Regions from separate parts of the Homo sapiens genome. Here region 1 is linked to region 2. The links come from fine-mapping of genetic effects on gene expression. A gene starts in region 2. The other region holds a variant in brackets. All regions are shown on one strand. Distances are between the middles of the regions.

Region 1 (5,000 bases), 56 kb before region 2:
CAGACTTGGACAGTGCAGACAAAGCTTTATGATGAAACGTTCCTACTTATTAATCAAACAATAATATGCCTTAAAAACTAAAGTTTCTACAAACTACCTTTTAGTAAAATCAGAAATATAGGAGAGAATTTTCCTTTTGTATTCTTGTATTTCCCATATCCCTCTGTTTTATTTCTACTTACAGTTCTGCTTGTTTCCAGGTGAAAGAACAAAAATAAACATAGTCTGCTGAGGAATTTATATAAAGTTTACTACCCTTCACTTACCATATCCCCACATACCTATACTGTACAGAATCATATCAGTATCCTACAACTTGTTTTGAAATCTTTAGATATTTATCTGAAATATCTCTGAAACTAATTTGGTGATTATGGATGAATGACAATTCAAGAATGTTTTTCATATAATTCTCTGCTGCAGGTCCAGGATCTGGTTTTCAATCTCCATATGATTCTTTCTGATACTGTGAAAATGAAGGAACACCAGGAGGATCCTGAAATGTTGATTGATCTAATGTACAGGTAGCATTTATTTGATTCATTTATGCTTTGTATAAGGGACTTAGTAAGACATACAGTAAGCATTAGATGAAAAAAATAAACACACAAAAATGATTTGTGATTTTTCTTTATTTACATTCTTTATTGTTTTTATTTTTATTTTTTACTTTTTTGTAGAGATGGGGTTTTACCATATTGCCCAGGCTGGTCTTGAACTCCTGGGCTCAAGAGATCTGCCTGTCTTGGCCTCCCAAAGTTCTGGGATTACAGACGTGAGCCACCGCACCTGGCCTTGAGTGATTTTTCTAATGGTAGATTGAAAGTCCAAATGCACTTTTTCCAGGTGGCATCTTTGGATCTTCTGTGTCTCTTCTTTTAAGAACAATGCAAATGTACTTATTGATTATCAAAAACGAGGATTTTTTTAAGTATTCATAACACACATTTAACACCTTGGTGTCCTGGGCCCCAGAGTTCCTTTGAAGGCCCATACCAATATTTTCAGTGTAAAACTCAGTCTTTTCAGAAGAAAATACAGTATATGAATGTTTTACGATAACATTAATTACCTGATTTTCAATACAGTTATGACTGAAGAATGATATTTCTAAGGGCACATTTTGAAAACTCCATAAATCGTATTGTATTAACACCTTAATAGATACAATAGTAAAACTTAAGAATTTTTCTCTGTCATATGACCCTCTGTTCCTGCAGTTTTGGGGTTCATTAAAAGCACAAATAAAACAATTTAATCTCTTTGAAATAAAGTAATAAAAGTACCTTTTAGAAGTTTTCTTTTTCCCTTGTGTATAAAACTTCTCTATGTTTCTGTAATGAACACATAAATTTCCATACTTTTTCCCTTAACTGGTTATTTTCTTAAAAGTCAGAATTTAATATGGCGTATTTCTTTTTTGCCCCTCCTGCCCCCCCCACCAACTGATATTATCCATTCCATAGGCCACAGTTATTTCTCTAGGCCTGCATAGCGACATTTTCATACTACTTTAAAACTAAGTAGGTTGTGCACAGTATCAAAAACCTTTCTAGGTAAACTCTGAGCGAGCTATCTAAACTCCCTCCCAGCTTGGGAAGCACATACTAATGGAGAAGAATTTCTGTTCTAATTAGAATTGCCAAGGGTTACCAGACCTCTCCAGATCTGCGATTGACCTGGTTGCAGAACATGGCAGGCAAGCACTCAGAACGAAGCAATCATGCTGAAGCTGCACAGTGTCTAGTCCACTCAGCAGCACTTGTTGCTGAATATTTGAGCATGCTGGAGGACCGGAAATATCTTCCTGTGGGATGTGTAACATTTCAGGTAGGAATCTTCCAGATGTACATTAAATCAAGGTATATCTTTTTTTGGTTTTAGCTTTTCTCACTGGTGTTTAGATTTTTTTAGTTTATAAGGAAAGCTTAAAGACTTAAGCCAATGCTTCACAAGGTGAATTAACATTTCACAGTGATTGTCATTAATACATTTTTAAGGAGTACTTCTTGTTGATTCTCTTTCCACAGTTTCTTACCTCTGAATTATCAGCACTATGCTTATTTATTCTCTTTGTCTTTACTGCCTTGTAATCCGTTACATACTTTAACATCTATGGAAATGTATTACTGATAATCAGAATTCAGTAGAAATTCTTAATTGGCTTTTACTTCACATAGCAGATATACCAACATTCTCTATTCCCTACATAAAATATTAGATTATTTTATGACTAATACCATGACTCACAGATGAGTTTGCCCTCTAGTAGGGTACATAATTCTGACCCACTAGTTGAATTCTCTGCTTACCAAGAGTCAGTTATGCTTTGCTTTTCTTCAAAACCTGTTAATAGTAGGTTTGAGATATTATAAAATTTAGTTAAATGTTATATCTTCTGATGAAATCAGAATGCAAAAAGAAAGTTATCGTTTCTCGGAAAACAAAGTTGAATGTTTTACAAAGACTCAGGAAAGGTGAATCTCCAAAACAATTGCTGTTGAATTAACTGTGGGCCAGACAAATAGATTGGGGGAGGGGAAACTCCTAAAATTCTAGAATAATTTGATAATCTTTTAAGTTTTCACTCAAAAGAAACCAAAACTTGAAATCTTTAAAAAGAGTGTTGCCTTATCGGTATTTACCCAAAAGAGATTCCGTGGAAATCTGATCTGGAAACCCATACACACAAAGAAAAGGCCTTAGATCTACTTCAAAAGTTGATGAATGAGTGTACATCTACTGTAAATGTTTAGGTTAAAATAAAATAGGGTATGTATGTATCATTTCTTTTTTAGAAATAATGGCTGATTCCAATCTCATTGAATAAGAGGGCTTTTATTATACCTGACTTTTTTCATTAACTCCGTGTACATTAGATAAGTCAAGAGACCATTTTTGTACCCTTTTTCCTTTACAGAGAGTTTTGAAAAGATCAATTAAATAAATAAGAAAGACTATTGATGTCTCCTTAGATGTCTTATGTTATATTACAATTTCCTTTAGCCCATGATTTTTCTTAATTTTCTTTCATACAACTTTTTATTAAGAGAAAAGTTATCTAGCAATGGTGTTTTCATTTTATTATCATCTTCAAAATACAGAAAGTTTTTAGAG[A/G]TTTATCTTTTACCTTTATATCACTCTCCTTTTTTTAACCTAACCTGATAGTTACAGTTCATCTTCAGTTATTTCTTCTTATACATTTTTATGCTAGAAAATTCTGTTTCAAAAACCTTTTCAATATATTTTTTCCCTAGAATATTTCATCTAATGTTTTAGAAGAATCTGCGGTCTCAGATGATGTGGTATCTCCAGATGAAGAAGGTATCTGCTCTGGAAAATACTTTACTGAGTCAGGACTTGTGGGATTACTGGAACAAGCAGCTGCTTCCTTCTCTATGGTAGATGACTCTTGTTAATTCTTTTCCCACAGTTTCATACCTCTAATTATCAATGACATGTGTATTTATTCTCTCTGGCTTATGACCCTACTTTTCTTTAAAGATAATTTATTCTGGACCCAGTATGGTGGCTCATGCCTGTAATCTCAGCACTTTGAGAGGCTAAGACGGGAGGATTGCTTGAATCCAGGAGTTCAAGACCAGCATGGGGAACATAGTGAGATACCGTCTCTACAAAAAATTAAAAATTCACCAGGCATGGTGGCTCATGCCTGTGGTCCCAGCTACTTGAGAGGCTGAGGTGGGAGGATTGCTTGAGCCCAAGAGGTTGAGGCTGCAGTGAGCCATGATTATGCTGCTGCACTCCAGCCTGGACAACAGAGTAAAACCCTGTCTCCAAAAAAAGAAAAAAAAATTGTTTTTTATTTCAAGTCCCCTAAAAACTATCTAGGAAAAGATTTTCTTTCTAGATTCATTATTGGCTTACTCCTTTTCATCTTAATAATCTGTCACTTCCCCCAGTGTTCCAGTGGTTTGGCTCACTGCGGCCTCAAACTCCTGGGCTCAAGATATCTTCCCACCTCAGCCTCCTGGGTAGCTGGGAATACAGGGGCACAGGGGCACACCATCACACCTGGCTAATTGTTGTATTTTTTGTAGGGATGGGGTTTCACTTTGTTGCCCAAGATAGTCTCAAACTCCTGACCTCAAGTTATATTCCCCTCATCAGCCACCCAAAGTGTTAGAATTACAGGCATGAGCTACTGTGCCCAGACCCACCAGTGTTTTTCGTTTGCTTGTTTATTAACCAGCATGTGATTTGTAGCAGATTTTTTTTGGTTAATAAAACTGTTACTGCCAAACATTTTCTAAAACCTTTAAGTTAAAAAACGTAGCAAAACAAAACAGAAAGTCTCTGAGTGATATAAGTTCCTAGTTGGTAGACTGACAGGGCTCTATAAATAGATCTTGTCTATTGGATGAAATGGAGAATCTTTTTTCCAGTATGATGGGCATTGCCCTGGTGTCCAAGAAAGTTATGACCACTCATTCCATTGGTTGCATAGTAATCCTCATTAGGTAGTTATTGGAGGCCTGGGCCTTACTCTTTAGTTTTATGAACTGCATCCTGAATCCTTTACCTGACTATGCTGTCATGCTATAACCCCAATCTTGTTCCCTTCCATCCGTATGTGAAGAATTAAAGCAGTCAGATGAAACCCAGATGGGATGTTTATTGGAGAAAGAAAAGATAGTTAGCTGAATTCATGCTTACCTTCTTAAACCATGTTGATAGGATCAGTTACTTCCTCTGACTTTTCTGCTAAATGTTTAGTGTACCAGCACCGAGGTTTAGGACACGCTGAGGTTCATGTTAGGGTAAGAGAGAAGCTTGAGGTAATATGCAATGCTGCCCTCTTTCCCCATTTCTACTGCTGTTGGGAATTGATTCGTTCTTCACCAGGCCTTATCCCTATCCTGCAATATATTGATAAAGGGTAGATTTAGAAGGCATACTGCCAAAGTTCAAATCCTGGCTCTGCCATTTAGTAGTTGTCTTACTTCAGGCACAAATTATTTAACCTGTTGGTGCCTCAC
Region 2 (5,000 bases):
CAACAAAATCATCAATTTTGAAAACAAATTTACCAAGGGAATGGTACAAATTAGAAATTAACATTTGAAAACCTAATGCCTGCCAATAAGCACTCAATATTTATTGCTTAAATGAAGAAGCATACCACACTGTTCTTAAAGAACAAAAAACAGAAGCTACTGAATTTTTAAAATCAGCCTGCTATGGATTAAGGGTCGCATTACAAAATATCCTATTTAGTAGACCTACAGTAAAATAGTATAAGTAGTAAAAACTTATTATTTCAAGGGCCGGAAGCGATAGCTCACGCCTGTAATCCCAGCACTTTGGGAGGCCGAAGCGAGTGGATCACGAGGTCAGGAGTTCGAGACCAGCCTGACCAACATGGTGAAACCCCATCTCTACTAAAAATACAAAAATTAGCCGGGCGTGCTGGCGGGCGCCTGTAATCCCAGCTACTCAGGAGGCTGAGACAGGAGAATCCCTTGAATCCGGGAGGCGGAGGCTGCAGTGAGCCGAGATCGTGCCATTGCACTCCAGCCTGGGCCATAGAGCAAGACTTAGTCTCAAAAAAAAAACAACTTAATATTTCATTATAATGATTCATTCAGAAAATATTGACTGAGCACTACCACCTCTAATTCTCAAGTACAAGGTAGGAAAGGATGAATGGAAAATCAAAGTAGTGCTGGACGATGAGTCCTCTCTTCCAATGCCTTTTCTAGTTATTAACATGGATATATGAAAATAAAGTACCTAAAAAGCTTATTAAAGAATAATTTGCATTCAAGGCATAGAGATGGTGTTAAGTTATACCTAAAACCGTAAGTGAAAGATAAAACACAAGCAAAGTTGAGACCGTGATAAAAAAAACTGTTCGATGCACTTTGTGTAAATCCAATTCTTAATGCACTAGAAACCACAATACTCGTTTTCCAAACTTTTTAAAAAACTTTGGATTTTAAAAATAGTGCTTTGAGTAGGAAAAAAAGATGATTTGGTTTGCCATTTGCAACTTTCCCACCCTGTTTTAAAGTAAAACTTGCACGTGAAAAAAAATGGCAACATTTGTAGGAGTGTAGGAGTTAATATTTTCTACATCAGGCCTATTTTTCAGGACATGGGAGGAAAAATTATCTGACTAGAGTATTACCATAAAATTACTTAAAGCCCAAAACTTCAGCAACGAGTTTCAAATTTAAAATGCAGAGTAATAAAATGAACTACACAAGACTCACTCAAATTTCATCCTTAATAAGCATTTCACATGGCTGACACTGATCTAGGAATTCATACTGAACTCAGCACACTGAAACCATTTCTGAGACCCAAATCAGGAAGCACTGGAAAGCTGATCCATCTCTCCATTCTGTCTCCAACTTCACTTACTCTCCTGTCTACCTAATGCTTCTGAGGAAGCGCTGTCTTCTGAATGATAAACCAACCTGCGCTAAGTTCTCAGGGATCGCCAAGCATTAATGATTCTGATAAAAGGTTTTTCTCGAGAGCCAATTTAATGGATGACAGAAACTGGATCTCAAACCGACAGAGTAACCAGACTACACAGAAGGGAAGAATGATTAGGCAGGTGAAATAGCGGATCGTCAGCTTAATCAAAAAACCAAACCTCCTAGCCCCTCAAAGCAAAGCTCACACCGAGAATGTAACATTTTGCCAGGTGCAGTATCTTCCTTGCTATTTCTTGCTCCTGGCTTTCCTTGTAACTGGGGGGCTGTTACATCCAAAATATTTCTCCTGTAACTAAATCAACTTTCGCAGAAAGCACGACGAATCGACCATTATCTGTTGACAGCGTGAACACTCAGTCCCAATAGTTTTAAATTCTTTATAAGATGACACGACTCGATTCCGATTTTTCAACAAAAATCTACAAGGACATCTTCGCCAAGGTTTAAGACACGCGGCGTTCTAAACACTTCTTGAAAAAGTGTAAGTGAAAGAAAATGCGCGGTAAAATTTCGCAATTACCGACACAGGGCAACCTGCGTGGAAACGTTTCTTTCTCCCCATCCTTCACCGCTCTCGGGAACGGAAAGAAAGCTGGAAGGACGAGCAGCGACCAGGCTGCCCGGTCGGGGGAGGCTGGCGGCGGCGTCCTCGGCCCACACCCCCGCGCCGGGCGCCCTCGCCGCGGAGTTGGCCTATTTACGCCCAGCCCGCACCTGCCTTCTCGCGTCCCGGCGGCGGCAAGACAGGCGCCACGCCCGAGGCACACACGGCTCCCCCTGGCAGGTCGACCAGGGTGCGAGGCCAACACGGTCCCGGGGTCTCCCCGGCAGCTCCTCTCCCGCGCCGGCCGAACTTGCCCCCGCGCCCGGGAGCCGGCCCCTCCTCCCAGGCCCTCCTTACCTGGTCATGGCCCAAAGCGAAGTCCGCGGCGGTGACGCCGGCAAGTCCAACCCGAATGAGTGTGGGTGCGACAGGTGAGTCCCTGCCCCGAGCCCGCCGGGTCCCCGGCCCCAGGAAAATCTGGTCGGCTCGCCCTCCCCGCGGGGGAGTGACCATCCGCTCCCAAGAGCGGGAACCCCGACCGCCGCTCGCTCCCGTCTTGCACCAACACCAACTACATCCCGGGAGCGGCGCCCATCTGCGCCCGCCCCGGGAGAGCCAGGAGCGCAACAAGCAGCGGCCCCGCTCGCCGAACGCCTGAACCGCTAGGGTCTTTAGCACTCCGCCACCGAGGGGAACTTGGCGCGTTTTCCTCAGTCTCAGGACCCCCGTGTTTTAGCCTCCGCCCGCGCCAGCGCTGCGATTGAACGTGGCGTCCTTTGAAATTGCCGGTTCCAGTCTCCACGCTGCAGAGACACGAAAGGCAGGAGCCGTCTCGCGACGGCCACTCGCCCCTGGCACGCACGGGCTCCGGAGCCAGCTGGGACTGTAGTTCCCCAAAAGCCTAACGGGTTCCACAGTTTCAAACAACGCAGGCACAGAGCCGGGCAGCTCGTGCGGGTCCTCGCTGAGGGCGCGCGCGAGGTGCTAGCGGCCTGGCTGGCGGGCTCGAGCCTCACACCCTTTTTTTAACCATTCGTGCGCGCGAGTTGAGGGAAAAGCGTACGGGTCGGGAGACGGGACAGAGAGCAGACGGGATGGGCCACCACCTCGAGAAGGAGCCCAAATTCACCAATCCATGATGAACAATCCCCAAAACCGCGCCTCCCACCGCCCGGGGGAAGCCAATCAGAAGTACCTAGACCAAAGCCAATTAGATGGGCGGGAGCAGCAAGCCCATCTAATAGCAAAAAAGAAGAAAGGTGGGCTCCAGCCAATCATTGTTCGACATACGGAGTGTTCCTCAGGCGCGGTGCCCCTCCTTCCGCTCTCATTGGCGCTCGAGTGCGCGCTTTCGCTGCCGACTGTTAAAATCTTGTTTGGCGTTTTGTTAATCCTCGACGGTGGGACGCCGCGGAGGGTGCGGCTTCCGGAGCGAGGCCCTCGCGGTAAGCCCCGCCTCCGTTCGTGCGTACGCGCCCGGGCGGGGTTACCAAGAGAGCAGCTTCGGAAAATGGCTGCCCGGCTGGACGCCGCCGCGCTTGGGCTTTCAGTTCGGAGTCGCGGCCACACTAGGCCTAGGGCCATCCAATGAGACAAGGCGCTGCCACGGATAACAATACATGCTCAGGCGAATGCTGTAGAGCTGAGGCCCGGTCCTCAGCCCCTGCTCGCCTCATTTTCGCCTGTTTACCTCTTCCCTTTCTCGGCCGCAGGAGGAAACGAAAGAACAGTTTCAGGCCCAGCTCCGGCCGCGGGAGCTTCCCAGGGTTCCCGCGCGAGCCCTCCCAAAGGGTTCAGGAGCGGCAGGCAGGCCTCATCTGGTTGTGTGCTTCCTTTTGTGTTTGTGTGCCTGCTTTGGTGAGGTGACCTCAGCTCAAGTGCTGCAGTTAAGCAGGATACGTTCAGCCCAAATCCATTTAATCAAGTATTTTTAAGGTGCCTACTATGTGCCAGGCATTTTTCAAGGCGCGAGGGATGTAAAGGCATTCCCTGTCATAAAGGAGCATTACATTCTGGAGAGGGAGATACAAGTGACGCTAAGATAAGTGATAGATACGATAGCCTGGAAAGACCTCTTTGAGTTGACATTTGAGCAGAGCTGAATGAAAAAGCTTGGAGGAATCTGAGGGAAGAATGGTGCGGGCAGAGAGAACAGCAAGTTACAAACGTCCTGAAGCTTAATGTGGTTGGTGTTTTGAAAAGAAGCAAGGAGGCCAGGGCGCTTAGAGCGCAGTCAATTTGGGAAATAAGATGGGAGGAGATGAGATGAGTGAGAAAGGCAGGACCCTGGGTAAGCCGAGTAAGGAGATGGGAGTCGTTAGATGATTCTGAGCTGGGGAGTGGCGGGATTACACGTTGACCTTCAAGAGTACAAGCAGGGTCGGGCGTGGTGGCTCACGCTTGTAATCCCAGCACGTTGGGAGGCCAAGGCGGGCTGATCTCTTGAGGTCGGGAATTCGAGACCAGCCTGACCAACATGGAGAAACCCCGTCCCTACTAAAAATACAAAATTAGCCGGGCGTGGTGGCGCAGGCCTGTAATCCCAGCTACTCCGGAGGCTGAGGCAGGAGAATCGCTTGAACCCAGGAGGCGGAGGTTGCGGTGAGCCGAGATCGCCTCACTGCACTCCAGCCTGGGCAACCAGAGCAAAACTCTGTCTCAAAAAAAGAAAAGTACCAGCGGAAAGGTCAGCCAAGATGCTGGTTCAATAAGCCAAGGAATAAATTATGGTAGTCTGGAATAAGATGGTGGGATGTTGAAAACTGGTAGGGTTCAAGATATATTTTGAGCACAGCCAACGAGCTCTACTGATGGATTGGCTGTATGATAATGTAAGAAAAAACAGGTCGGGTAGCCAGGGCCGGTGGACCGCTTGAACCCAGGAGTTCAAGATCAGCCTGGGCAACATGGCAAGACCCATCGCTACAAAAAACTCCAAAAATTGGCCGTGCGTGGTGGCACGTGCCTGTAGTCCCAGCCACTCGGGAGGATGAGGGAGGAGGATCCC

Which allele goes with the higher level. Positions count from the first base shown, and alleles are read on the strand shown. Sizes are in standard deviations (SD) of each study's normalised expression.
For the expression in tibial artery of the gene that starts at base 2,702 in region 2, A is the low allele of the variant in region 1 and G is the other (small effect, 0.16 SD a copy in GTEx).

Evidence for each region. PIP is the estimated chance that this variant, and not a neighbour inherited with it, causes the effect.
Region 1: its variant is the best candidate, but not a certain one, in a credible set for the expression of USP1 in tibial artery (GTEx, PIP 0.80).

The regions. Positions count from the first base shown.
Region 1 is chr1:62,491,105-62,496,104 of GRCh38, reverse strand. DOCK7 (dedicator of cytokinesis 7) reads left to right here. Exons shown (of 50, transcript NM_001367561.1): 39 at 424-524; 40 at 1,638-1,830; 41 at 3,258-3,401. Among named protein-coding and RNA genes, the nearest start is that of USP1, 57 kb to the right of the region's middle. The variant A/G (reference allele first, on the strand shown) is at 3,118.
Region 2 is chr1:62,434,751-62,439,750 of GRCh38, reverse strand. USP1 (ubiquitin specific peptidase 1) reads right to left here and starts at 2,702. Exons shown (of 9, transcript NM_003368.5): 1 at 2,351-2,702. RefSeq lists a silencer at 2,046-2,105 and enhancers at 2,806-2,875, 2,700-3,467, 3,436-3,785, 3,468-4,235.